Homo sapiens: one gene and its partners. The protein of the gene in region 1 interacts with the protein of each later gene in a biochemical or structural test. Each region holds a gene or a part of one and is shown on either strand. Other genes may lie near its edges.

What was found.
Region 2: the proteins of TNFAIP3 (region 1) and PFKL form a complex in vitro, tested with the Homo sapiens proteins (one study listed by BioGRID).
Region 3: of the proteins of TNFAIP3 (region 1) and RIPK1, one has a biochemical effect on the other in vitro, tested with the Homo sapiens proteins (2 studies listed by BioGRID).
Region 4: the proteins of TNFAIP3 (region 1) and RNF114 form a complex in vitro, tested with the Homo sapiens proteins (one study listed by BioGRID).
Region 5: the proteins of TNFAIP3 (region 1) and UBE2N form a complex in vitro, tested with the Homo sapiens proteins (one study listed by BioGRID).
Region 6: the proteins of TNFAIP3 (region 1) and RNF168 form a complex in vitro, tested with the Homo sapiens proteins (one study listed by BioGRID).
Region 7: the proteins of TNFAIP3 (region 1) and MAP3K5 form a complex in vitro, tested with the Homo sapiens proteins (one study listed by BioGRID).

The regions. Positions count from the first base shown.
Region 1 is NC_000006.12:137,870,259-137,873,758, forward strand, and holds part of TNFAIP3 (tumor necrosis factor alpha-induced protein 3), read left to right. Parts: intron 1-574; exon of another isoform or gene 575-654; intron 655-776; exon of another isoform or gene 777-924; coding exon of another isoform or gene 925-969; coding exon 970-1,264; intron 1,265-3,500. UniProt on the Homo sapiens protein: Ubiquitin-editing enzyme that contains both ubiquitin ligase and deubiquitinase activities.
Region 2 is NC_000021.9:44,310,053-44,313,552, reverse strand, and holds part of PFKL (ATP-dependent 6-phosphofructokinase, liver type), read right to left. Parts: intron 2,548-3,500; coding exon 2,470-2,547; intron 1,449-2,469; coding exon 1,259-1,448; intron 576-1,258; coding exon 410-575; intron 1-409. UniProt on the Homo sapiens protein: Catalyzes the phosphorylation of D-fructose 6-phosphate to fructose 1,6-bisphosphate by ATP, the first committing step of glycolysis.
Region 3 is NC_000006.12:3,074,994-3,078,493, forward strand, and holds part of RIPK1 (receptor-interacting serine/threonine-protein kinase 1), read left to right. Parts: intron 1-1,770; coding exon of another isoform or gene 1,771-1,830; coding exon 1,831-1,994; intron 1,995-2,785; coding exon 2,786-2,942; intron 2,943-3,500. UniProt on the Homo sapiens protein: Serine-threonine kinase which is a key regulator of TNF-mediated apoptosis, necroptosis and inflammatory pathways.
Region 4 is NC_000020.11:49,949,897-49,953,396, forward strand, and holds part of RNF114 (E3 ubiquitin-protein ligase RNF114), read left to right. Parts: intron 1-2,179; coding exon 2,180-2,245; 3' UTR 2,246-3,500. UniProt on the Homo sapiens protein: E3 ubiquitin-protein ligase that promotes the ubiquitination of various substrates. In turn, participates in the regulation of many biological processes including cell cycle, apoptosis, osteoclastogenesis as well as innate or adaptive immunity.
Region 5 is NC_000012.12:93,408,066-93,410,947, reverse strand, and holds part of UBE2N (ubiquitin-conjugating enzyme E2 N), read left to right. Parts: intron 1-73; coding exon 74-214; intron 215-868; coding exon 869-909; 3' UTR 910-2,882. UniProt on the Homo sapiens protein: The UBE2V1-UBE2N and UBE2V2-UBE2N heterodimers catalyze the synthesis of non-canonical 'Lys-63'-linked polyubiquitin chains. This type of polyubiquitination does not lead to protein degradation by the proteasome.
Region 6 is NC_000003.12:196,486,769-196,490,268, reverse strand, and holds part of RNF168 (E3 ubiquitin-protein ligase RNF168), read left to right. Parts: intron 1-1,585; coding exon 1,586-1,662; intron 1,663-2,690; coding exon 2,691-2,870; intron 2,871-3,500. UniProt on the Homo sapiens protein: E3 ubiquitin-protein ligase required for accumulation of repair proteins to sites of DNA damage. Acts with UBE2N/UBC13 to amplify the RNF8-dependent histone ubiquitination.
Region 7 is NC_000006.12:136,561,978-136,565,477, reverse strand, and holds part of MAP3K5 (mitogen-activated protein kinase kinase kinase 5), read left to right. Parts: intron 1-2,862; coding exon 2,863-2,975; intron 2,976-3,500. UniProt on the Homo sapiens protein: Serine/threonine kinase which acts as an essential component of the MAP kinase signal transduction pathway. Plays an important role in the cascades of cellular responses evoked by changes in the environment.

The DNA of each region.
Region 1 (3,500 bases):
TTATTGTTCTATTATTATTTTGCGGTTTTTCATTTTTTGTTTTCGTAGAGACCTAGGTCTCACCGTGTTGCCCAGGCTAGTCTCAAACTCCTGAGCTTAAGTGATCCTCCTCCCTCGACCTCCCAAAGTGCCAGGATTAAAGGCATGAGCCACCATGCCTAGCCTATTGTTAGTCTGTTTCTTATTCTGATATGAAGTCCGGTGCGGAGGTTCTGAAGGAATGCTGACTGCTCTTAAAATTGCAAAGCATCTTGCTGGAAATGGACTTTTTTATTGATTAGAAAACATTCGGTTTTAACTCTTTATAAACATCAGAATAAACTTCATGATTAAACACTTTATAAATACTTCTCTTTGGGGCTAAAGAGGAAACACCAACCAGCAGCCTAAGTGACAGCATAAAATTGCAAGATTTTTCATAAAGTATTTTACTGTCCTTCCAGCATAGGGAGGGAGTGATAACTCAAGAGTTTGCCCAAGAGCAGGAGTGCTTGGTGGTGGTCTGAGGGGAGGAGCTACAGACTTGTCAGGGCTACTTTGAGCCCTTAACTGGCATCCAGTACTCCCCAAATCCAGTGCTGTTCAGGGTGGCCTCAGAATGAAACGGGAGCTTAAGTTGGTTTTGAGGAGCAGTACCTGTTGCTGACAGACAGGGTTGGCTCCCTGACAAACATTACTGAAAACACGGGTTATTCCCCTCCTCCTCAGTACCCACTCTCTGCCTTCCTTCTCTTGTTTAGGCTAATCTTTTAAAGTGATGTAACTTAAAACAGTCCAGTGTGAGTTAATCTCTGGGGCCAGCTAGTATCCCGGGAGTAGAGGTGCTAAGATCTTTTGCCTACAGATCAGGGTAATGACAAGATCAAACACTGGGGTTTCCTGCAGGCAGCTATAGAGGAGTCGTATTAAAGTCAGGCTAATAGAATGGCTTTTTTTTTTTCCTTTCCTTTTCAGGTGTTGGAGAGCACAATGGCTGAACAAGTCCTTCCTCAGGCTTTGTATTTGAGCAATATGCGGAAAGCTGTGAAGATACGGGAGAGAACTCCAGAAGACATTTTTAAACCTACTAATGGGATCATTCATCATTTTAAAACCATGCACCGATACACACTGGAAATGTTCAGAACTTGCCAGTTTTGTCCTCAGTTTCGGGAGATCATCCACAAAGCCCTCATCGACAGAAACATCCAGGCCACCCTGGAAAGCCAGAAGAAACTCAACTGGTGTCGAGAAGTCCGGAAGCTTGTGGCGCTGAAAACGAACGGTAAGACTTGTTCTGTTGTGTTTCTTTTGCCTGGGTGATAGCTCCCGCCTGCTGGATCCCCATTCATGAAGCTTTAATAGGACAAGCCCAAACTCAAATCAATCTTGAGATTTAGTATTGAGACCTTTATATAGAATCTCTATTCGGGGTATGTGATAATAGCAGACTTGTTTTGTGAATCTATTTATTAAGGATATTTTCTGATTGTGTATATTGCAGAGCACATTGAGGCTTGGAGAATGCATTTGTAAACACCATACCTCCATTAGGTGATTTCTTTCTAATTCTTGCAAATGTCTAATCATCTGTAAAATACCCTTCTCTGGCCCGTAATGGAAATGTTAAAAGCCTTTAAGTTCAAAAGGAAAGAATGGTGTGAAAACTGGTAGTACATTTGTTTCCCACTGTCATTAGAAAATGCTTGTGATGTTCTTACACTTCTTGAATTGGTAGCATTTTATGGGTTAACCAGTGAATGGCTGTTGAAGACATGAAGAACTTCTTTTGTCTCCTCCTCCTCTCTGACCTAGGTTCTATTGCCTATGCCCTGCAAGGTGAAATAGACAGATAGCTGAGATTTTTAGCATGAATTTTAGACTTCACCTTCATTATTTTTAGGGGTTCTTAGTCACTGAATTCCTTCCTGTCTGTGCTGTTCTGCCAATGGCCTTTACCACTAGTAGCTATTTCCTATTCCAAGCTTTACTGTTTTGTTTTTTAATCATTTCCCTTGGGTAAGAATATGTGCATCAACAGGAATGTCAGAGCATACTGTTTCATGCAGGCACAAAATTCTGCTCTATGGATGTGCATAATTATGACAATAAGGAAGTTGACTGTACAAGCTCAATTAAATGCTCATAGTCTACATAAGAGCAGGAATCTCAGGTCCTTATATCTGTGACAGTCCCAAACCATCCTAATAGAAATAATATGTCCAAGGGCAGAAAATCCTTGTTGACAAGGATTACGATAAGAACACTAACTTAATTAACTTCATTCAAAAGCCAAGTACATTAACTTTGGCTTTTTTTGACTTGGGTAACTTAGAGTGATTGGTGGACATGGGTTTTTAAATTTTGATTCTGGGGGCTCTTGTACATTACCCCAACGTCTTGCCTAGATTTATGAAACACTGATTCTTAGAAACATAGATAGAAAGAAAACTGGGGATAGCTACTATCTGCATTGTTCTTGGCATTAAATTAAGTGATACTTAGAGGTAGGTAATTATGTGAAGTCATCATCACGGGGTTTATGTGCCTGACAATTTGTGGTTTTAATCATCTCCCATTTGTTACCAAAAAGAGATGGAGTCAACTTTGGGGGAGTTGGAAACAAAGATTCTGCTGAATTAAAAATGTGGTAGAAAGAGGAACACCTTATTAAGAGAATTAACTGACTTTTAGCTTTATTTCCTTAAGAAAGGAAATGCTCTATTTCCACTAGAAAAAAAAAAGGAATATAAATAGGAAACACTTATTTTGTAAACATGTCATTTAAATCAACAAGGAGCCACACTACAAATAAAACTACAAAAGCAGGTGCATTTTGGTAACATTTTCTGGGAAATCATTTTTAGACTCAGAGTCCTTTTGTTTCTTCACTTTCAAGAAAACTCCTTAAGATTCTAAAAAAGGAAGAAAAGATATTTAGGGAGGGAGGAAAACAAATGACTTTTTCTTTGATTTTAATTAGCACCTTTTAAAAAAAAATTAATCCTTCCCCTGATAGGAGGGTTCTTCAAAGGCAATATCTGTTTGGGGAGGGGGTGATTCACAAGTTTGCATTTGAGGATATGAGACTGCGGTGAATGAGGAAGGGAGTAGGTGGCATAAAATTGAAACTTCATGTGAAAAATTCCAGCGTCTATTGGCTGCAGCGATTTCACTTGTATAATGAGTAGCCCTATTCCAGCTCACCCTGACCACACCCACTTGGAAAGTCCAGGGTGCACTTCGCAGTTTAAATGTCTACACACCAGAACAAAAAGTACAATAGCTGTTGCTCAATTGCTAGTCAAATAACTTAGCACTGGGGAATTCCAGATGTTACTTAGGGAATTTTATACTGGTGCATCTCAATAAAGAACTGAAAGTAAGCACAAGAAGAAAAAAAGCCTTATCTTTGCTCTAGATTTTGCAAAGGGGAAATTTCAACAGAACGCAATCATTGCTACACGTCTGCCAAGACACAAGGCTTGGGCGATCTTTTTTGTTCATTTGTTTGAATACTT
Region 2 (3,500 bases), on another chromosome or scaffold:
GTGGATGGAGAGGCAGGCAGGGGACAGCCCCTTCTCATGCCCAGGCTCTGAGCTAAAAGATACCTTGGGATCCTTCCAGCCTTTGGGCTGGTTTCGACTGATCTCCTCCCAGGCTGAGGGTCATTTGCCAAGCCCAGGCCTGGCCAGCCCAGGACTTCCTTTGGGGGCGTCACACCCCAGGGCAAGCAGCTGCCCCTCAGAAGGGGCTGCACAAAGGCCCCCCGCGGCCTGGCAGAGTGGGAGTGGAGCCCGCTGTGCGTTCCCCCAGCTGGGGGCTGAGGGCGGCTGGCCTGGATGCTGGGGCTACCAGAGTCCACTGCCCTTGCAGATGGCCGTCACCCTGAGACCACCTCACCACCGTGCGGGGAGGAGGGGCCCTGGGCTGGCCGCCGGCGCCAGCCTCACTCACCTCTGGGCAGTGGTGGTGATGGCATCGATGACCTCCATGATGCGGTGGAGGGCCGAGTCCGTGCCGATGGTCATGTCGGTGCCGCAGAAGTCGTTATCGATGGAGCCCACTAGGCCCGCGATGTTCAGGTGCGAGTAGGTCCGGGCTGTAGTCTCTGAGATCTTACCTGGGCCAGGAGCAGCAGGAGGACCTGGCTGAGGCTCCACTGGCCCCACCACAGGGCCAGAGACCCCTCTCCTGCCACCCCTTCCCCCGCATCCCAGGCGTGCAGCCCGGCAGGGGCCCCGGAGTTCCAGGCTCAGCCTCCTCCTGCCTGGAACCCTGTGGCAGCATGGCTGGATCCGCTGGGGCCAAGTGCAGACGGGGGACCTCTGGGGTGCCTTGCAGAGCGGCCAAGGCCTCACATCAGGGTCCCCCACATGAGGGACATGGAACAGACATGGCTCCGAGAGGCCACTTTCCAAGCAGCAATCTCGGGACTCTGTGTCTTATGTCACCCCAACTTCAACTCTATTTCTGCAGACTGTGACCATGCATGTCCAGAATCTCACTCGGATCAATCACAGAGAAGACTTGTCTACGCAGCGTAGGGTGAGCAACACCGGCCTCCACCAGCCCCATGCACTGCCTGGGTGCCCTCCCTCAGGCTTGAGCACTGACCTCCATCTCTGGGAGACATCTGAGCTCGTGCTGGCAGACACTACTCCTCCCCGGCCAACGGCCAGACAGCCCCTCCTCTGCCTCGGGGCACCCAGGGATCCCTCGTCCCTCTGTCCTGCCCATTCCCACGCCTGGCAGCAGCGGCAAAACAAAACCCCAGGGCCTACAGTGCGCCGGGCACAGACCCACCTTCCGCCACCAGCTCCTCCAGCAGGCTGCCCCACTCGCTGCGGAAGATGTTGGCACCTGTGAGGCTGCCATCCCCGCCGATGACGCACAGGTTGGTGATGCCGTGCTGGACCAGGTTGTAGGCCGCTGCCCGGCGCCCCTCCCTGGTGGTAAAGGCCTTGCAGCGAGCGCTGCCAATGATAGTGCCGCCCTGCACAGAGGAGACCAGAAACTTCAGGAGAGATGGCAGGCGGCAGACAGCCCCTGGGGATCACCAGAGGGACCCCAGGACTGGGCAGCAAGGGGCTGGCAGACCCTGCAGAGTGAGAGGCAGAAGCCCCGGGGTCTCTGGAAACCTGAGGTGGCCCTACCTCCCTGGGCCTCTCTCCTTGGAGAGACAAAGAGGAGGATGATGTCCGTCCGGTCCTGGGCTTGGGAAGCCCCAAGGTAATAGAGTGGAAGGCTTTGGAGACTGGAAAGCACAGTACACACACGCATAGGTTGCCACACACATGTGCGTGCACACGTGCACACACAGGCCCTGTACCAACTCAGGGAACCGGCCAGGGCCTCCAGGGCTCAAGCCTCAGCAGCTCCAGGTGCGCTCACGTGGCCCCTCATAGCCAGCCTCAGCCAGGGCTCCCCCAGGACCCAGCACGGCCACGTCTCCAGGTCCTCCTGGCCCCTGGCAACCCCATGACCCTGCGACCCAACAATTCCATGGCAGCAGATGACAGGGTCGGCCTGAACCTGAGTCCCTGTGCGATGGGGCACGTGTGTGTGTGACTCTGAGTACATATGTCTGTATGTTTCTGTATCTGTGTACCTGTGTGCGCATCTGTGTGTCTACGTGTGTATCTGTGTATTTATGTGTCTGCATGTGTCTATCCATGTGTATCTGTCTCCATGTCTGTGTGCATCTGTGTGTGTCTGTGTGCGCGTCTGTGTGTCTGTGTGCACGTCTGTGTGTCTGTATGTGTGCATGTCTGTGTGTGTCTGTGCACGTGTCTGTGTCTGTGCGCGCCTGTGTGTCCGTGCACGGGTCTGTGTGTGCACGCATCTGTGTGTGTGCACATCTGTGTGTGTGTGCGTCTGTGTGCATGTCTGTGTGTCTGCATGTGTGTGTTTGTGCACGTGTCTGTCTCTGTGTGTGTGTCTGTGTGTGCAGGTCTGTCTCTGTGTGTCTGTCTGCGAGTCCAAGTGCAACATGCATCCGCGTTCCCAGGCCTCACCAGCTGGATGATGTTGGAGACGCTCAGCCAGTTGGCCTGCTTGATGTTCTCACCTCCCTCCACGAGGCCCTCATAGCCCTGAAATCAAGAGTGGGGCAGGCATGAGATAGGGGACCCCATGGCGGCCGGCAGCAAGTGGTCTGGGAGCAGGATTTTCACCCCACCAGCAGAAAGCAGGACCAGGGTGCTGACTGTGAGGCCCCACCATCATCCCAGGGCCTGGGTAACAGGGTCCGGGTGCCCCCTAGGGGGCTCCAGACACCCTCTGCACAGCTGGTGAGTCCGTGTGTCCCGGGGCGTGACTCCTGTGGCAAGTGCTTTGGTGCAGGGGCCTGTCTGAGCTCCCTCACCCCACCCAGATCCACACAGGCAAGTTCAGCGTCCCGAAGGCCCCAGCGGAGCCCGCCATCCAGCTCCTGAGGGTGCATCCTAGGTCTGCCTGTTCTGAACATCCTAGAAATGACACCACAGAGGCTGCTGTGCGTGGCTCCTTCTGTCCCCACTGGAGTCCTCCCAGGCATGCGGCCGGCGGGGTGTGCGGCGCGTGCTCTTGCTGTGTGGCGGCCGTGTGAACAGCCCAGGCTACCATCTGCCCGCCAGAGCGGGAAGCTGAGAACACACACACCTCCCTACAGGCGGGCCCCCACCCGAGGGAGCTCCTGGGTCCAGGGGACCCGAGTGGCCATCGCTCGTAGGGCCGGCAACACCCCAGGCAGGGGCTCCAGGCTCCGCGTCCCGCCACGCCGGCCACACTGGGCCTTCCATCCAGTACCGTGGATCTGCCTCTCATGCGGTTCTACCTGGGATTTCCCAGATGGCACCTGCACAGCCTCCGTGCCACGTGCCCGTTTCCTACTGCACGGCCAGCCCTTTCTTGTTGTTTGAGGGGAGGGACACTCATGACTGCATTTCACTAAGGGTGTGGAGAGGAGAAGGGCGGCCTCCTCCGTGCAGCCCCGGTCCCTCCATGGCATCAGCAGCCTTCTCCAGGCCGTGAGGTGAGGCAGTGGAGCAGCCATTCCTCGGCCAGG
Region 3 (3,500 bases), about 130 Mb from region 1:
TCTGGAATACAAAACATCCATAGCCCTCCTTTTACTCTCAAAGCAAAACACAGACACGCACATTCACATGCACACACCAGTGTGTCCGTGTCCTGTTGGTTTGCATGGAGTTTCTGTTTTGCCACGAAGCTTTTTGCCAGCCCTTTTCCCAAAGTGTTTGTACCATTTTATACTCCCACCAGTGATGTTTGAGAGGTCTGGTTGCTTCACATGTTTGCCAGTGTTTGGTGTATTAGTCTTTTTAGTTTTGGATATCCTGGTAGTTGTGTAGTGGTGTCTCCTTGTGGTTCTCCATGGGTTTTTATTCTATATTTCAGTTTGGGGAAAATGAATGAATGGAAGAAAAGAAGGGAGGAAGGATGAAGCAAATAGCTGTGCTTTGAGATCTGACACTGTATACTTCACAGCCCTGATGGACATTCTCCAAATTCTACTCCTTTTTCACATTTTCTTCTTAGAGTTTGCATTGTTCTTTTTATATTCTTCAGATTCCTTCTTTTGTTCATAATTACTTAAACCTATTCATTTTCTAATGCCTTTCAGTTGTTAATTTACTGAAGTTCTTTGGTGCTTACTAGTGCTGCTTGCTGTAGCTGCAGGGTCTGTCTCACAGTGAATTTTTTCTTTTGTGTTTTATAATTTTGGAAAGGGAGCTCATGTTAAATTTGTATTTGTAGGAATTCTGTCTGGCCTGGCTTGAGGTTGTTGTTTGCTTTAGCCTATAACCTCAGGATGGCATCAGCCTGTGACCACTTCCTGTGTAAAAGTTCATAGTTTAGGCGATCCTCTCAATTCAAAGTCTGTATCTATTTCAAGACAGGCCCAAGGTTATAAATTTGCACAAACTTTTTTTTTTTTTTTTTAATACCTTGTGCCCAGTCCAAGACAAATATGTTTGTTTGCCATGGGCTGCTTTTTTTCTAGTTCATCCTTTCATCAAAGGGTTGCACATTGAGCAGTGCCGTGTTAAGGGGGGATTCTTCATTCTACCTTCTTTTCTTGTATTCCTTGACCTCAGCTGGGCTTTAAACCTTGACTTCTGGATGGCGAGGTTGGCACTCCCCTGTGTGAGCTACTGCCTGCCTCCGGTGCTCTGTTTCTGTCCCTAGAGTTCTTTTCCTTTCCACGGAGTTTTGGTATGCATTTCAATGAATGTTTGTATTATGTTGTCCAACATACTTGTGTCCTTTATAGCTGGAGGGTTCTTAAAATTTTCTAATGCTCCATATTGCCAGAAATAAAAAGGCTGAGGGAATAAATATTATAGTCTTCTCTGATTCTTAAAAATATGAAAAATAGCTCATCAGATGACTGTAAGTCTATCCTCAGAAATCCAAGGCACACCAAGCATGTGGTGGAATGTTAACAAAAGTTTTTAAAAATGATCTTTTCTGCCAGGTACAATGGCTCACACCTGTAATCTCAGCACTTTGGGAGGCTGAGGTGGGAGGATCCCTTGATCTTAGGAGTTTGAGACCAGCCTGGGCAACATAGTGAGATCCCCCGGCCCCCCCATCTCTACAAATAATTAAAAAATCAGCTGGTCACGGTGGGGTGCACCTGTGGTCCCAGCTACTCAAGGAGGCTGAGGGAGGAGGATTGCCTGAGCCCAGGAGGTCGAGGCTCCAGTGAGCTATGATTGTGCCACTGCACTCCAGCCTGACTGACAAAGTGAGACCCTGTCTCCAAAGGAGAAAAAAAAAAACATATATATATATATATATATATATATAGTCTTGCCCTGAGGTTTTCTCTCTGTTTTCTTTACAGGGTACAGCTCTGCCGGGGGGGGAAAAAGTGGTACCATTTTGGGCGTTCTTGAGCTTCAGAATGCAACCAGACATGTCCTTGAATGTCATTAAGATGAAATCCAGTGACTTCCTGGAGAGTGCAGAACTGGACAGCGGAGGCTTTGGGAAGGTGTCTCTGTGTTTCCACAGAACCCAGGGACTCATGATCATGAAAACAGTGTACAAGGGGCCCAACTGCATTGAGTGAGTAGGGAGCAGGGGTGGGTGGGCTAAGTTCTGAGCGGGATGGGGACGTTGGCTGTTGTGGAGCCGTTGGCTGCTGCGGAGCCGTTGGTGGGTAGAGTGAGAGGGAGCCTGCCAAGATGTCAGGGTGACGATGGCTCTTCGGATTGTTATTGTCGCTGATGTGGACTCTGAGACTGGGTAGTGAAGGACTCTCACAGCTGGTAAGTAACAGAAGAGACATGAACAAGAAGGAAATAGAGAAAGACAAAGAGATAAGTGTGGTGGGGGGACAATGAAAAGGAAACAGGAGGATGGGTGAAGACAGACCTATTCACTCGCTTCACATTTTCAGTGAGGACCAGCCCTAAGTATAAAAATGAAAAGGCAGTTCATTCCTGAGAGGTTCTGAGAGCCTTCCCTTTAAAGCAACCAGTAGAGTGGTTTCACCTCTCTCCCTCCTTTGTCAGAGTGGTTTTGAGAGAGGCTGTTTTTTTTTTTTTTAATCGTTCTGTCCAGCACGGTCTTTTTTCAGGTTACCTTGCTGCTGTTCATGTACTTTTCATTCATTGATTCATTCATTCCTTCATTGATTTACATTTTTGGAGCATGCACTGCCAGTTACTGGGCAGGAGTACTGTGAGGAAGTGAGAAACCGCTCTGCCTTCTAACGCTTCTGGCCTGTGCCTGGAAGAGATCGGTACAGACCCAAGCATGACCCCAGCACGTGGGAGTGATGTGTTGGAGGTGTGCACCAGGCTCTTGAGGCGCTGGCTCTGCCAGCCTCAGCATAGCACCTTTCCTGCCCACAGGCACAACGAGGCCCTCTTGGAGGAGGCGAAGATGATGAACAGACTGAGACACAGCCGGGTGGTGAAGCTCCTGGGCGTCATCATAGAGGAAGGGAAGTACTCCCTGGTGATGGAGTACATGGAGAAGGGCAACCTGATGCACGTGCTGAAAGCCGAGGTAGAGAGGGCCCCTCCGCACGGGGATCCCCAGCGCTTGGGCCCTGGCTGTCTGTTATGGCTCCCCTTGGGGTGTTTGTTTGCAGCTCGTTAGCATCAAATTTGCAAATTGCTTGGTAGTTTGAATTTTCTTTTCCTTTTTTTATAGAGACAAGGTCTTGCTATGTTGCCCAGGCTGAACTCCAACACCTGGTCTCAAGTGATCCTCCCACCTCAGCCTCTCAAGTAGCTGGGATTACAGGCTGGATTTCCTGAAGTCAGTTTCTCCTTAAAACATCTATGCCTTGATTGGGCTCCGTGGGTCACTTCTGTAATCTCAGCACTTTTGGCAGGAGGATCACTTGAGCCTTGGTGCTCAAGACCAGCCTGGATAACACAGTGAAATCCCCTCTCTACAAAAAATAAAAGGTGCATGTGAACAGAGCAAGACCCTGTCTCTGAAAAAAAGAGAAAATCTTCCTTGCCTTTTACTGCCCTGAGAGTGGTCTCTTCATCCTCTCGATCCTGTGGACAGTCCTCCATAGTCTGTGTCTTAGGAATGTGATTGGCTGTTTACCAT
Region 4 (3,500 bases), on another chromosome or scaffold:
CCTCCCAAAGTGTTGGGATTACAGGCGTGAGCCACCACGCCCGGCCCAGAGTGACATTTAAGAAGATGATCTGGGCTGGGCGCAGTGGCTCACACCTGTAATCCCAGCACTTTGGGAGGCCGAGGTGGGCGGATCCTGAGGTCGGGGGTTCGAGACCAGCCTAGCCAACATAGTGAAATCCCGTCTTTACTAAAAATACAAAAAAATTAGCCAGGTGTGGTGGTGGGCACCTGTAATCCTAGCTACTTGGGAGGCTGAGGCAGGAGAATCGCTTGAACCTGGGAGGCAAGGTTGCAGTGAGCCAATATCGTGCCACTGCACTCCAGCCTGGGCAACAGAGCAAGACTGTCTCAAAACAAACAAGAAGATGATCTGGTCAGTCTTTGAGACAGAGACAGTGATACTTGCTCTTTCCATCTCCTAGCCCTGCCACCAAATTTTTGTCTACTTTTCTTGTGGTTTATATAATTTCTGCCTGTTATAGAACTTGGTTTGGGGACAGGTGCGGTGCAGTGGTTCATACCTACAATCCTAGCATTTTTGGGAGGCTGAGGCAGGTGGATCGCTTGAGCTCAGGAGTTCGAGACCAGCCTGGGCAACATGGGAAAACCTTGTCTCTGCAAAAAATACAAAAAGTAACCAGGTGTGGTGGCTCCTACCTGTAGTCCTAGCTACTTTGAGGGAGCTGGGACAGGAGGATCTCTTGAGCCCAAGAGACGGAGGTTGCAGCAAGCTGAGATCATGCCACTGCACTCCAGCCTGGGCAACAGAATGAGACCCTGTCTCAAAAAAAAAAAAAAAAAACAAAACACACACACACAACAACAATTTGGACTTGGGAGGCTCAATCTCGCATGTCCATGGGGACCATAATTGAAATGATCCTCCTGAGGATTTCCAAGCCAGGTGGTGCCTGACTCGTTATGCTGCCATCACCTTGTTTTCCTATGGAAATGCAGGCGCAGCATTGCCTAGCTTCTCCACCCCCCATGCCCAAGCAGGACAGGAAAATTTCACAGGAGGTTTCACAGGTTTTAATTATCTTCAAAAATACTTCAGGTCAAATAGCATATATCCACTAGCCAAATACGGCTGTCAGGTTTATATTCTTTCCCTAGAGCTGGATGGTTTCAAAGGGGCACACTGTTGTCTTGCCATTATAGTAGTAGGTAACTTTGGCCAACTATATCAAGTAAACCTCTTACTTACATATATAGATGTCAAGTTAGGATTTTAGAGTGGTATTCGGTCTTGATGGCTGAATTTCAGTATCTAAGAAAGAAAGCTCTCTGCTAAATTGTCATAAAGAATATTTTTTCTCAGTCTGACAGTGTCTGAAACTCAGACTTCAGAATAACTGCCCTTTTTGTTAATGTGACACAGATGAATTACATTCATCTGTGTCACATTAACAAAAATGACTCATTAAAAATGAGTCCTAAAAATGACTCATTAAAGAGGGCTAGTTGCGCTATAGTTTCTGCTGTATTGTATGGCTCTAAAAATCTGATTCTGTACTGTGCACTGATTCCACCTCTCAGAAACAACTCTTCAGCTCAGTGCATCTGCGTGCTCTGTTCCGACAGACTTACAAATGTTCTGAGCACTTGGTCTGTGCCAGCCTCCATTCGTGTGCTGTCTGGGTTTCTCAATCTCCATTTAAGGGAGGCATCCTTAACTTCATTTAAGAATCAGGCAGCAGACTGGGTGCAGTGGCTCATGCCTGTAATCTCAGCACTTTGGGAGGCCAAGGCGGGTGGATCACGAGGTCAAGAGATTGAGACCATCCTGGCCAACATGGTGAAACCCTGTCTCTACTAAAAACATAAAAATTAGCTGGGCATGGTGGCGCACGCCTGTTAGTCCCAGCTACTCGGGAGGCTGAGGCAGGAGAATCACTTGAACCTGGGAGGCAGAGGTTGCAGTGAGCCAAGACTGTGCCACTGCACTCCAGCCTGGCAACAGAGCGAGACTCCATCAAATAAAAAAAAAGAGAAGGCAGCAGAGACAGATTAATTTTCCCAAAGTTACATACCTAGCATCACAAACAGTTGCACTGGGGATCCGGTCCCTGGCAACCTGCTCCGGATCCAGTTGCTAGGCTGTCCTGCTTCTACTGAAAGCCAGTCTTTGCATCTAGAAACAGTTGCTGAGGCTGCATGTCTCTTTTTGCCCTTAGGATTATGATGTTGATGAAGAGGACATGATGAATCAGGTGTTGCAGCGCTCCATCATCGACCAGTGAGCAGAGTCCGTGCTTGCTATCTGTCTCATGTTACAGAGCTTCCATTACATATTAAACGTGAAATCTATGACTCCTGTACCTTACCTGTTCAACAGACCTGAAAATGAGCCATGGCATTGGGACAGGGTCACTTCTGACAGGGGAAGTGGGTCCCCAGGTCAGCCCTTCTCTTCCCTTTGGGCTCTTGCCAAAGCTGTCTTCCCCTACTGTTAACCTTGTTTGTCACACGGTCGAGTTCGTATTGGTTCTCGGCTACTTCCTGGAGCTTCTGCCGCCTCCTGTGGAAGATAATCTAGCTTCTCCACCTCTTGTTTCACACTCATTCCTCCCATCCAGTGTTTGTCTCTCGGGTCCTTCAAGCCAGCCAGGACCTTTTCTGGGTCATGAATAGCACAATGAAGCAAGTGTCTCCTTTCCTTGTCCCCAAGGTGTGCAGACTTTGGCAGCCGTGCACCTGACCAGAGCTGAAGCTCCCGCTGGGCTGTGGGGTTGCCAGAAGCTGGGGTTGCCATCCCGGGGTACATGTCACCAGTCCTCTTGGGGTTTTGTACCATCTGATGCTGGAAGTTTTGATTAGTGATATTTTCTACTACTACATATTTAGAGTTCACTGGTTCAGTCTTAAATGCCTGCATGGTGCCTTTTTAGGATAAGGTATAACCATACATTTTTGGTGGAAGTGTTTCTGGGTTAGGGAAGTTAAAGTCTGTTTATCCGTAAGTGGGGAGGAGGGTCAGCTAAGAGAAGTGGGAGGGCCAGAGCTTTTTGGTTCTGATTTACAAATTAATGAAGTAGTTTCAAACAACGCGGTCATGTTTACCTCTCCATTTGGGAGCCTGCCTACATTCTTGTTCTAGAAGCACAAAAAATCCTCAGATGAATTAGAAGAAAGAGGTTTGGGGACTCAGCGGATACTAGTTCTTTTACCTTCTGCTTGGTAACTTAGATTAAACTGAGCATTGTTTTTCTGTCACAAATGTTTTCCTTATGACACTGGTTTCGACATGTAAAATGTGTTTGAAAACCTGCTTTGTAGATGCAGAGAGAAGCTATAGGAAACCCAGTACCACCCCTGGTCTGTTCTGACGAGACATCGTTCATAAGGCACAGCACATCGCAAGATGAACAGTTGTTAATAAAAGCTGTTGCTGGAAACTTGCTTTAGGAACAGCTCAAGAACCTTGGAGTTCATATTTCACAAATATTAATAAATATAAGTCCAAGAGCTGTCAGCCTAATCTGTAGGAGCAGAACC
Region 5 (2,882 bases), on another chromosome or scaffold:
GTGGGAGGGAAGTGAAGCAGTTCTGGGCCTGTTTTTTTCATGCTTTATCATACTGGGCCTGTTGCCTTCATAGATAAGTGGTCCCCAGCACTGCAGATCCGCACAGTTCTGCTATCGATCCAGGCCTTGTTAAGTGCTCCCAATCCAGATGATCCATTAGCAAATGATGTAGCGGAGCAGTGGAAGACCAACGAAGCCCAAGCCATAGAAACAGGTATCTAATATTCATTCTCCTTCACACCACTTCCACTTTTACAAATTTGTATTACCACTTAAACTTTTCTAAAGCTCTTGGCAAGGAAAAGAAATAGAAAAAAGTATAATAAGTGAGATCCTGCTTATAGTATGTAAATACGTCTTAACAAAATGGCTTGCTATGGGACCCCCCAAATATAAAGACAACCTGTAATTGAAAGATCTTGGAGTCTCTTGTAACTACACCTGGTTTAACAAATACTGAGTGCATACCATTTATCTAGTTATATGTAAAGAATACTGGAAAACTTGAACTGTTTTTGTAACCCATTTGATTAAAGTATTCAGCTGTTTATGGCTACGGAATTTGGAGTCAAGAAGCTTCTGCTACAGATTTTAAGAAAATTAGTGGGGAGAATTGTGTATCTAGAAATGGACAACTTGATTCATCCTCTTGAATTTTCTAGAACTTCTTAATTTTATTGTAGTGTTTTGGTAATTGGACATTTACAAAATCTTTCAGCCCTGATCCAATTTATAGAAAAAGGCGTGAATTTAACAGATTACAGCATGACATTTCCATAATTAATAGTGGTTGTTTGCCATTTATAGTTTGGAAAGTAACATATTGAACTAAGTAAAATAATAATCGTATGTTTGTTTCTGTCTACAGCTAGAGCATGGACTAGGCTATATGCCATGAATAATATTTAAATTGATACGATCATCAAGTGTGCATCACTTCTCCTGTTCTGCCAAGACTTCCTCCTCTTTGTTTGCATTTAATGGACACAGTCTTAGAAACATTACAGAATAAAAAAGCCCAGACATCTTCAGTCCTTTGGTGATTAAATGCACATTAGCAAATCTATGTCTTGTCCTGATTCACTGTCATAAAGCATGAGCAGAGGCTAGAAGTATCATCTGGATTGTTGTGAAACGTTTAAAAGCAGTGGCCCCTCCCTGCTTTTATTCATTTCCCCCATCCTGGTTTAAGTATAAAGCACTGTGAATGAAGGTAGTTGTCAGGTTAGCTGCAGGGGTGTGGGTGTTTTTATTTTATTTTATTTTATTTTATTTTTGAGGGGGGAGGTAGTTTAATTTTATGGGCTCCTTTCCCCCTTTTTTGGTGATCTAATTGCATTGGTTAAAAGCAGCTAACCAGGTCTTTAGAATATGCTCTAGCCAAGTCTAACTTTATTTAGACGCTGTAGATGGACAAGCTTGATTGTTGGAACCAAAATGGGAACATTAAACAAACATCACAGCCCTCACTAATAACATTGCTGTCAAGTGTAGATTCCCCCCTTCAAAAAAAGCTTGTGACCATTTTGTATGGCTTGTCTGGAAACTTCTGTAAATCTTATGTTTTAGTAAAATATTTTTTGTTATTCTACTTTGCCTTTGTACAGTTTATTTTACTGTGTTTATTTCATTTTCCCAATTTGACAATCGTATTTTAAAATTGAAACTGATGGAACATTCTTTCTTGGTCTTCACCATCTGACAAATTGAATGGCAAGAGGTGGATTTTGCCAGTTTCTTTTCACTGATGCAGATTTGTGTTAAGATAGTACTGAATGGAGTATTTATAAACTGGCCCTGAGCATGCATAAAGCATCAGTATCTGACCTTTTTTTAACCTTCTAGGAATTTGAAATAAATGTGTTTGTGTTGTCTGATTAGATGATCATTGGTGTCTTGCCACAATGTTTAAAAATTACTGTACAGGAAAGTCACAGCAAAGATAGCAGTTGTGACTGACATGTAGGACTTTCACAGTTGTGCCACATTTTTGCCTAAAATTTGGGTTATGACATTTTTCTTGGTTCTTATCTGAAAATTTCATCTGTAACCTTTCATGTGTGTTAAGAAACACTGATCTGATCATTTGGGATTTGCTGAGGCATTTGTGAGTCTTCCTTATAAACCTGATGAGCAGATCTCAACTATCTAGCTTGTGTGTCATCAGAAAGGTTTATCCCTTTGAGAGTATCAAGTCCTCAGTTAATGATTCTTGCTTTCATCCCTCCAGTATTTGCTGTGGGAGCTCGTTTTATTCTTTAATTTGGAATTCAGTAATTTTTCTTCTTTATTGACGAATTCCTCCCCTCACAAAACTGTTCTTTCCCACCTCTCTCCATATCTAATTCCTGATTCTTGTTATTTTTAAGTCATAAATGTAGCCAGTCATAAATACATAAATGTTAACCTTCGGGTTGCAACCTTGTCTCTTGCAGTTTAAGGTAATGGATATTGTAGCCCATTTGAATTTTCTTCACTCTTATTCTCGTAATTCTGGAGTTTCTTCAGATTGTGGTGTATTTTATTGTGCTCCTATGTAAGATGAAGAATTAACTATTAAAATTACATTTTCAACATACAAAAGCTTTTGATGACTGGTAACTGGTATCCTTCCAAATAAATGCATTGCTTGGTAACAAATGTTAGCTTAATTCAGAATGAAATAGTTAACAACCCTAATATTGTAAAATTTGAAAACTGATAGCAGCTGTCATTTATAACAATTCTTGGGCTGTTTAAAGGGTACATTTGACTATAGCTAAGGAAATTGAATCTCACTTTAAAAATGAACCACACAAAACTTCAAGAAACGAAATAGAAATCAACATTTACTGCCCGTAATATTGCTCATGGTTATAGCTAGTATCACATAGTGATTTACA
Region 6 (3,500 bases), on another chromosome or scaffold:
TTTGTTGAGGATACATACCCACATTTAGGTTATTTTCTGACCCAGAATTATCTTTCAACTCCAGGGTGATGATTTTTTCTCTTTGTATAGCTTACTGTTTCCCTAGTCCTGCAGATGTATTTCAAATGTCTGACGATCCTTGGATTAGCTTTTAGGTTTGAGAATGAGGCCCAGGAGAAAAGCTCTGTGTATGTGGAAGGGTATTGGTGATGGGCAGACGTTGAGTTCAAGCCGATGGAAACCTGGCCTTTGTGCTTTGCCATCCCTAACTGCCCGATCGCAGAGGACTTTGCTCTGGGTCACCACCTATTACATTAGCTGCTCTGGCTCTCTCTAGATCTGTTTCTTTAAAGAAATATGCGTGTGTGCACCTGCACCCATATCCAGGGAGAAATGCCGGTAAGTCGAGGATTCTGATTTAACAGCTTATAAATCTCGAGTTCTGTTTTCAGTCCCACGGTTACTCACTCTGGACTCTATGAGCCTCTCTCTAGGCAAATAGGAGGCAGATTCCCTTCTAATTCTACCTCAGCTGTAGTCTTCCCTTTCAAGGATTTCTTTTCCTTCATTTCTGCTGTATCAATTATCTCTATTTCATTGCCTTCCCATTTTCTAGAAATTTGTTAAAAATTTTTTAACTGGAGCCGGGCACGGTGGCTCACGCCTGTAGTCCCAGCACTTTGGGAGGCTGAGGTGAGCAGATTGCCCGACATTAGGAGTTCGAAACCAGCCTGGCCAACATGGCAAAAACCGGTCTGTATTAAAAATACAAAAATTAGCTGGGCATGGTTGGGCATGCCTGTGATCCCAGCTACTCAGGACACTGAGGCACAATAATTGTTTGAACCCGGGAGGCGGAGGTTGCAGTGAGCTGAGATTGCACCACTGCACTCCAGCCTGGGTGACAGAGCAAGACTCTGTCTCAAAAAAAAAAAACATTTTTTTTTAATCAGTTAACCTCCTCTGCTAATTTCTGCTGTTGTAGGATTACAGTTTTTAAAAATTCCTTTACTGTTATTTTAATGGAGTTTAGAGGAAGGGTTAAGTATATGCATTCATATGCCATTTCAAACCCAAAACCCTAAACCTCTGGCCTCACAAAATGGAATTCCAGGCCGGGCGTGGTGGCTCACACCTGTAATCGCAGCACTTTGGGAGGCCAAGGCGGGTGGATCACTTGAGGTCAGGAGCTCGAGACCAGCCTGGCCAATGTGGTGAAACCCTGACTCTACCAAAAATATAAAAAATTAGCTGGGTGTGGTGGCGCATGCCTGTAATCCCAGCTGCTCAGGAGAAGGCTGAGGCAGGAGAATCGCTTGAACCTGGGAGGTGGAGGTTGCAGTGAGCCGAGACTGTGCCACTGCACTCCAGCCTGGGCAGCAGAGCAAGGCTCTGTCTCAAAAAAAATAAATAAAATAAATCTAAAATAAATAAATAAAATAAATGTTAAAAATGGAATTCCAAAAGGAGATATTGCTGCAGTTATTAATAGTTGTATATTTTAATTTTTCGTTTTAATGGAAGACCAAAGTTACCATAAAATTGTGTTGCCTATAATGTTATTTTCTTTTTTGATATGAAATAGCTGATGACTATCAGCCAGTTCGTCTGCTCAGTAAACCTGGGGAACTGAGAAGAGAATATGAAGAGGAAATAAGCAAGGTAGGTGCTAAATAGTTTTTTTTTTTGGAATATTTCTCTGCTGTGTTTTTAGTTTCAGATTTTAATTTAGTTTTTTGTGCTTATATAACTAGTATATCTTGAAATATGGATAATTTTTTTTTTTTGAGATGGAGTCTCACTCTGTCACCCAGGCTGGAGTGCAGTGGCGCAATCTCGGCTCACTGCAACCTCCACCTCCCGGGTTCATGCCATTCTCCTGCCTCAGCCTCCCGAGTAGCTGGGACTACAGGCGCCCGCCACTACGCCTGGCTAATTTTTTTGTATTTTTAGTAGAGATGGGGTTTCACAGTGTTCACCAGGATGGTCTCGATCTCCTGACCTTGTGATCCGCCCGCCTCGGCCTCCCAAAGTGCTGGGATTATAGGTGTGAGCCACTGTGCCTGGCCAAAATATGGATAATTTTAATGTACTTTATAAGGGCTTTGTTTTTTGCTGTAATTTACTTCTACATAATTAATGCTCTTATGTGATAGTGTTCCCTAAGCATTTACATATGAAGAAAATTTTTTAATTCTTCTTTTTCCTAATTTAATCCATACCAGGATATATTTTTATTTCCCCAAAGTTTTGAGCTTAAAGTAAAAGGGTGGTAGAGTGTGAGTTTAGATGAGGAAAGGTTAAAGGGCTAGCTGTGAAGTTCCTAAATAGGAAAAGTACCTAAAAAGCAGTGTTTATAGTGAAGCATTATGTTTTAATTACATATGAAGTTATACATAAATAGAGATTTTTCTCTTTTTTTGTTAGTCTTCAAAATTTTGTGTATAATTTTCACTTGTAATACATCTCAGGCTAGGTGTGGAGGCTCACACCTATAATTTCAGTGCTTTGGGAGGCTGAGATGGGACAGCTATCTTGCAGGAATCTACTTCTCCAGATTTGTACTTCATTTGAGATCATTTAAATTTCTGCCAATTTGTTCTTTTTCTACTTTTCTATTCTTGTTATGAAATATTGCAAGTATACCAAAACGTTCAGAGAAGGATTGCTCTTTATTAATCACTTTTAAGGTGGCGGCAGAGCGACGGGCCAGCGAGGAAGAAGAAAACAAAGCCAGTGAAGAATACATACAGAGGTTGTTGGCAGAGGAGGAAGAAGAGGAAAAAAGACAGGCAGAAAAAAGGCGAAGAGCGATGGAAGAACAACTGAAAAGTGATGAGGAACTGGCAAGAAAGCTAAGCATTGATATTGTAAGTTTTAGGAGGGAACGCTAAGGTATGGTCATCCCTTGGTATGCGCTGCTGCAGAACCCGCTCATGGGAAGAGTCAGCTCCTTGTATTTCCAGGTTCTGCATCCCACAAATATTGTCTTTTCCACCCCAGGCTGGTTGGATTTGAGTGTTTGGAACCTGCTGATACGGAAAGCTAACTATTAACATTCCGATTGCTTTGACTGTGGTTTTCAAAGAACAGAAGAGATGGCGTTGCCATAATTAGAAGCTATTGATAACATTTTTGCTTTACTTAAAGTAAAATTGTTTTGCATATTGTTACATATTTGCTCTAATCCAGGTTTTTGGGGTTTTTTGTTTTTTGAGACAGGTCTTACTCTGTCATGCAGGTTGGAGTGCAGTGGCACAATCACGACTCACTGCAGCCTCGACGGCCGGGCTCCGGTGATCCTTCCAACCTCCCGAGTAGCTGGGACTACAGGCTGGCACTACCATGCCTGGCTACTTTTTTGTGGAGACAGGGCTTTGCCATGTTTCCTGAACTGGTGTCGAGCTCCTGGGCTCAAGCCGTCCATCTGCCTCGGCGTCTCAAAGTGCTGGGTTTGTGGCGTGAGCCACCGCAAGTTGTTTAACAACTTTTTTATATGT
Region 7 (3,500 bases), 1.3 Mb from region 1:
CCTGGGTGACAGAGCAAGACCCTATCTCAAAAACAAAAACAAAAACCTGTCTCAAGAGGAGCTGCCTGTTTATTTAATTTCCCCATCCTACAGTTCTGGAATTACCCACCAATCCACCTCATCACCCCTGCCCATCCAAGGTTAAAAATTGACCTCATGGCAGATCCTGCCATACTTTTTTGGAACAGAAAGGCAGACAGTTGCCTTGATTTCAAAATATTGCCCTGCTAAATAAACACAAAATAAAAATAAAATTGATGTACTGGATTGTTCTTAAGATAAATACTTCTAAGAGCTGGATTCGGAGCAAATGAGGTGGGCTGTCAATACTCTGCTTCCAGTGTTGAAGTTCTGGTGTTTAAGGTGTTAAAAGAAAGCTTCAGACAAATTAAATTTAATGGAGTTTAATTGAAAAAGAAAAAAATAGTTTGTGAATCAGGTGGCCTCTAGAATCACAGCAGATTCAGAGAGATTCCAGGGATGCCTCGTGGCCAGAACAAATTTATAGAAAATAAAAGTAAAGTGACGTACAGAAATCAGAAGTGTGCAGAAAGAGCTGGATTTGTTATGGGTTGGCGTTCACCTTATTTGAACACTCAGCAGTGTATGAGTGGTTGAAGTATGGCTCCTGGGATTAGCCAAGACTCAGCTATTGTTATAGACGCATACTCCTAAGTTAGGTTTTCAATCTTGTCTACCTGTTAAGTTATAGTTTGTCCACGAGGACTCAAATATGCAAGTACGGAGTCCTTCTCAGGCCATATTTCATTCACTTTAACAAAAGATAAAAAGAAATTACATAGTCTAGACAAACATAGGTTAAACTCTAGAAAACATCACTGTGTTCCTTGAGAAAACAGTAAGAAGATACCATCACTGTCTTATACGTATAAATTAGCAAGTAGGACAAAAATACATACCAGATCAAAAAACTGCCAACTTAAACATTCACACAGAGCTTCCTGCCCATTTCTTTGGATAATATTTGTTTTGAAAGAGATAAGAAGCCTCCCTCCAAGACCCTGTGCTCCCTCTTCTAGCTTTCAGTTCATGCTGCTTCATCCACCTCATTGTGCACCACACTTACCCTGCAGCTGTCTTTGTTAACTTATTTTCCTCCACCCACCTTCTCTGTCTACCTCTTATTGTGTTTTACTTTTGTCCCACCTCTGCTACCTACTCTGCTGTGATCCCTTCTCTCTGAGGATCTCATCTTTATGTCCTGTGGGAATGGGGTCGAGCCTGGGGGTCTGGGAAGGTTTCCTTCCCACTGAGTCCTGGAAAGGCTCTTTTCCAGGGACTGAGGTAGCAAGGAACAGAACATCCCTTATTAAAGACCAGACACTGACTTGGCACTGTACCTATGCTGTCTCATTTAATGCTCACAATAATCTTTTCTGGAAGCTTTAGTTTTCTTTTTTACAAATGATTTGAAAACTGAAGCCTGGAGGCATTAGGTAATTTATCTAAGGTTAACACAGGAAGTGCAGGGTTGAACCAGGACACAAGCCCAGATCTGTCAGTTGCACGATGCTGCCTTCAGATTATGTCAAGTGAAGCAGAAACAAACTCTTGAGTTAAATCTATCAATACTCAGAAAATGAAACAAATAGAGTTTGTTAAGAGCTGTAGTTTATGCAACGATTTATCCTGATAATCTTAATAACGATATATTTTAAATTATTATTTCTGAATCCAACTTACATTAAGATACTTTTCTAAAAAATTAGAGCACCTCTTTTCATAACTTGGAATGTTTTCTTTGAGAAATTCTATTGGAAATGGTGAGTAGGTTACCAGTTGGCTCTCAGTTGCATAGTGAACCTTCTATGGGTAAGAACTTTGGTATGAATATCACAGTTTCTCCTTGTTTCTTTGGAGACTGCATCAGATGCCAACTAGGAACTGAATGTACCAGGAACACAGCTATCCTTTTACCCACTTCACCCCCGCCCCCTTAGAAGGAAGAGGAATAATAGTAACAATCACAATTGTAGCAACAACCGTGAACATTTACTGAGAATTTGTTATATGCCAGATATTCTAGGCGACCTCACCTATGACTGTTTCTCAAATTTTCATAGTTTACAAAAAGTGATTACTTTTCTGATTTGCATTGATTATGAAATTATGCACATTTGCCAACTTTTTTTAATGGGGGTCCATACATGTAAAATATAGGCCTGTTAATATCTGTATCCCATATTTATATCTTTGACATTTATGGTCATAACAAGAAATATCAGGACACATCTCTGAAGATTTTGGCAGACAATCTGTGGTGGAGGTTTTGAATTCTTGTCGGCAAGCACAGTCTTCCAAAGCTTAGCTTCTGGACCTGAGGGTCTGTGAACCTGCAACATCAGTGTCATCTGGGAGCTCATTATAAATACAGTCTCAGAACTCACCCCCGGGGCACTGGACCAGTATCTGTATTTCAATAAAATTAGGGGTGTATGTGCTTATTATAGCTCATGTCTAGAAGGTCATCCTAGGCCTGGCACAGTGGCACATGCACACACCTATAATCCCAGAGCTTTGAGAGGCTGAGGTGGAAAGACCACTGGAGGCCAGGAGTTCAGAGACCAGCTTGGACAACATAGCAAGACTCTGTCTCTACAAAAAAAAAAAAAAAAAAAATTAGCCAGGCATGGTGGTGCATGTCTGTATTCCCAGCTGCTTGGAAAACTGAGATGGGAGGATCGCTTGAGTCCAAGAGTTTAAGGATGCAGTGAGCTATAATTGGGCCACTACACTCAGCCTAGGCAACAGAGAGAGACCTTGTATCTAAAAAAATAAAAATAAAAAAAAGAAGGTCACCCTGTGTCACCTCCTGTCAAACAATATATTTTTCTTCTGCAGATTACTGGAAGAATTGGTTCGGAAAGAGAAAGAATTACAAGCACTCCTTCATCGAGCTATTGAAGAAAAAGACCAAGAAATTAAACACCTGAAGCTTAAGTCCCAACCCATAGGTGAATAGCAGAAAGTTTTATAGTAATACTGTTCAGCCAGGCTGCCACAAAAAGCCAAGAAAGCCAACAGGAAGTTTTATTTGTGGCTAAGTCAGCATTTCTCACTTCTACCATGACTGCAAGCAGGAATTCCTTTAAAAAAAAAAAATCCAGTTTTTAACTGTAGCAAACTCATTTCTTATAAGTGCAGTAAAAATAGATTATTCATAATCATCTTTTCCTGAGATTATGTATTACTGAGGTAAACAGGGCTCTCTGTTTTTAGTCTTTATTTTTAAAGATTTCACAATGAGCTTACTAGAATAAATAATACTATTTTTTGTCATTTTGCATTTATATTCTGTGTATTCTAGCCTTTTTCCTTATAATTTGAAGAGGCTTAAATAGAATAAAGATGTAGTAGTAAAAAGGCATAGCTGGGGAGAATGTTATTTAGCCCATTTAGAGGAAAACAGAATTCATAGTTATTTGTTTAGATATGTGGCTCTTTCATAGTGGAAAAAGAGATTATGATAATTATATAGT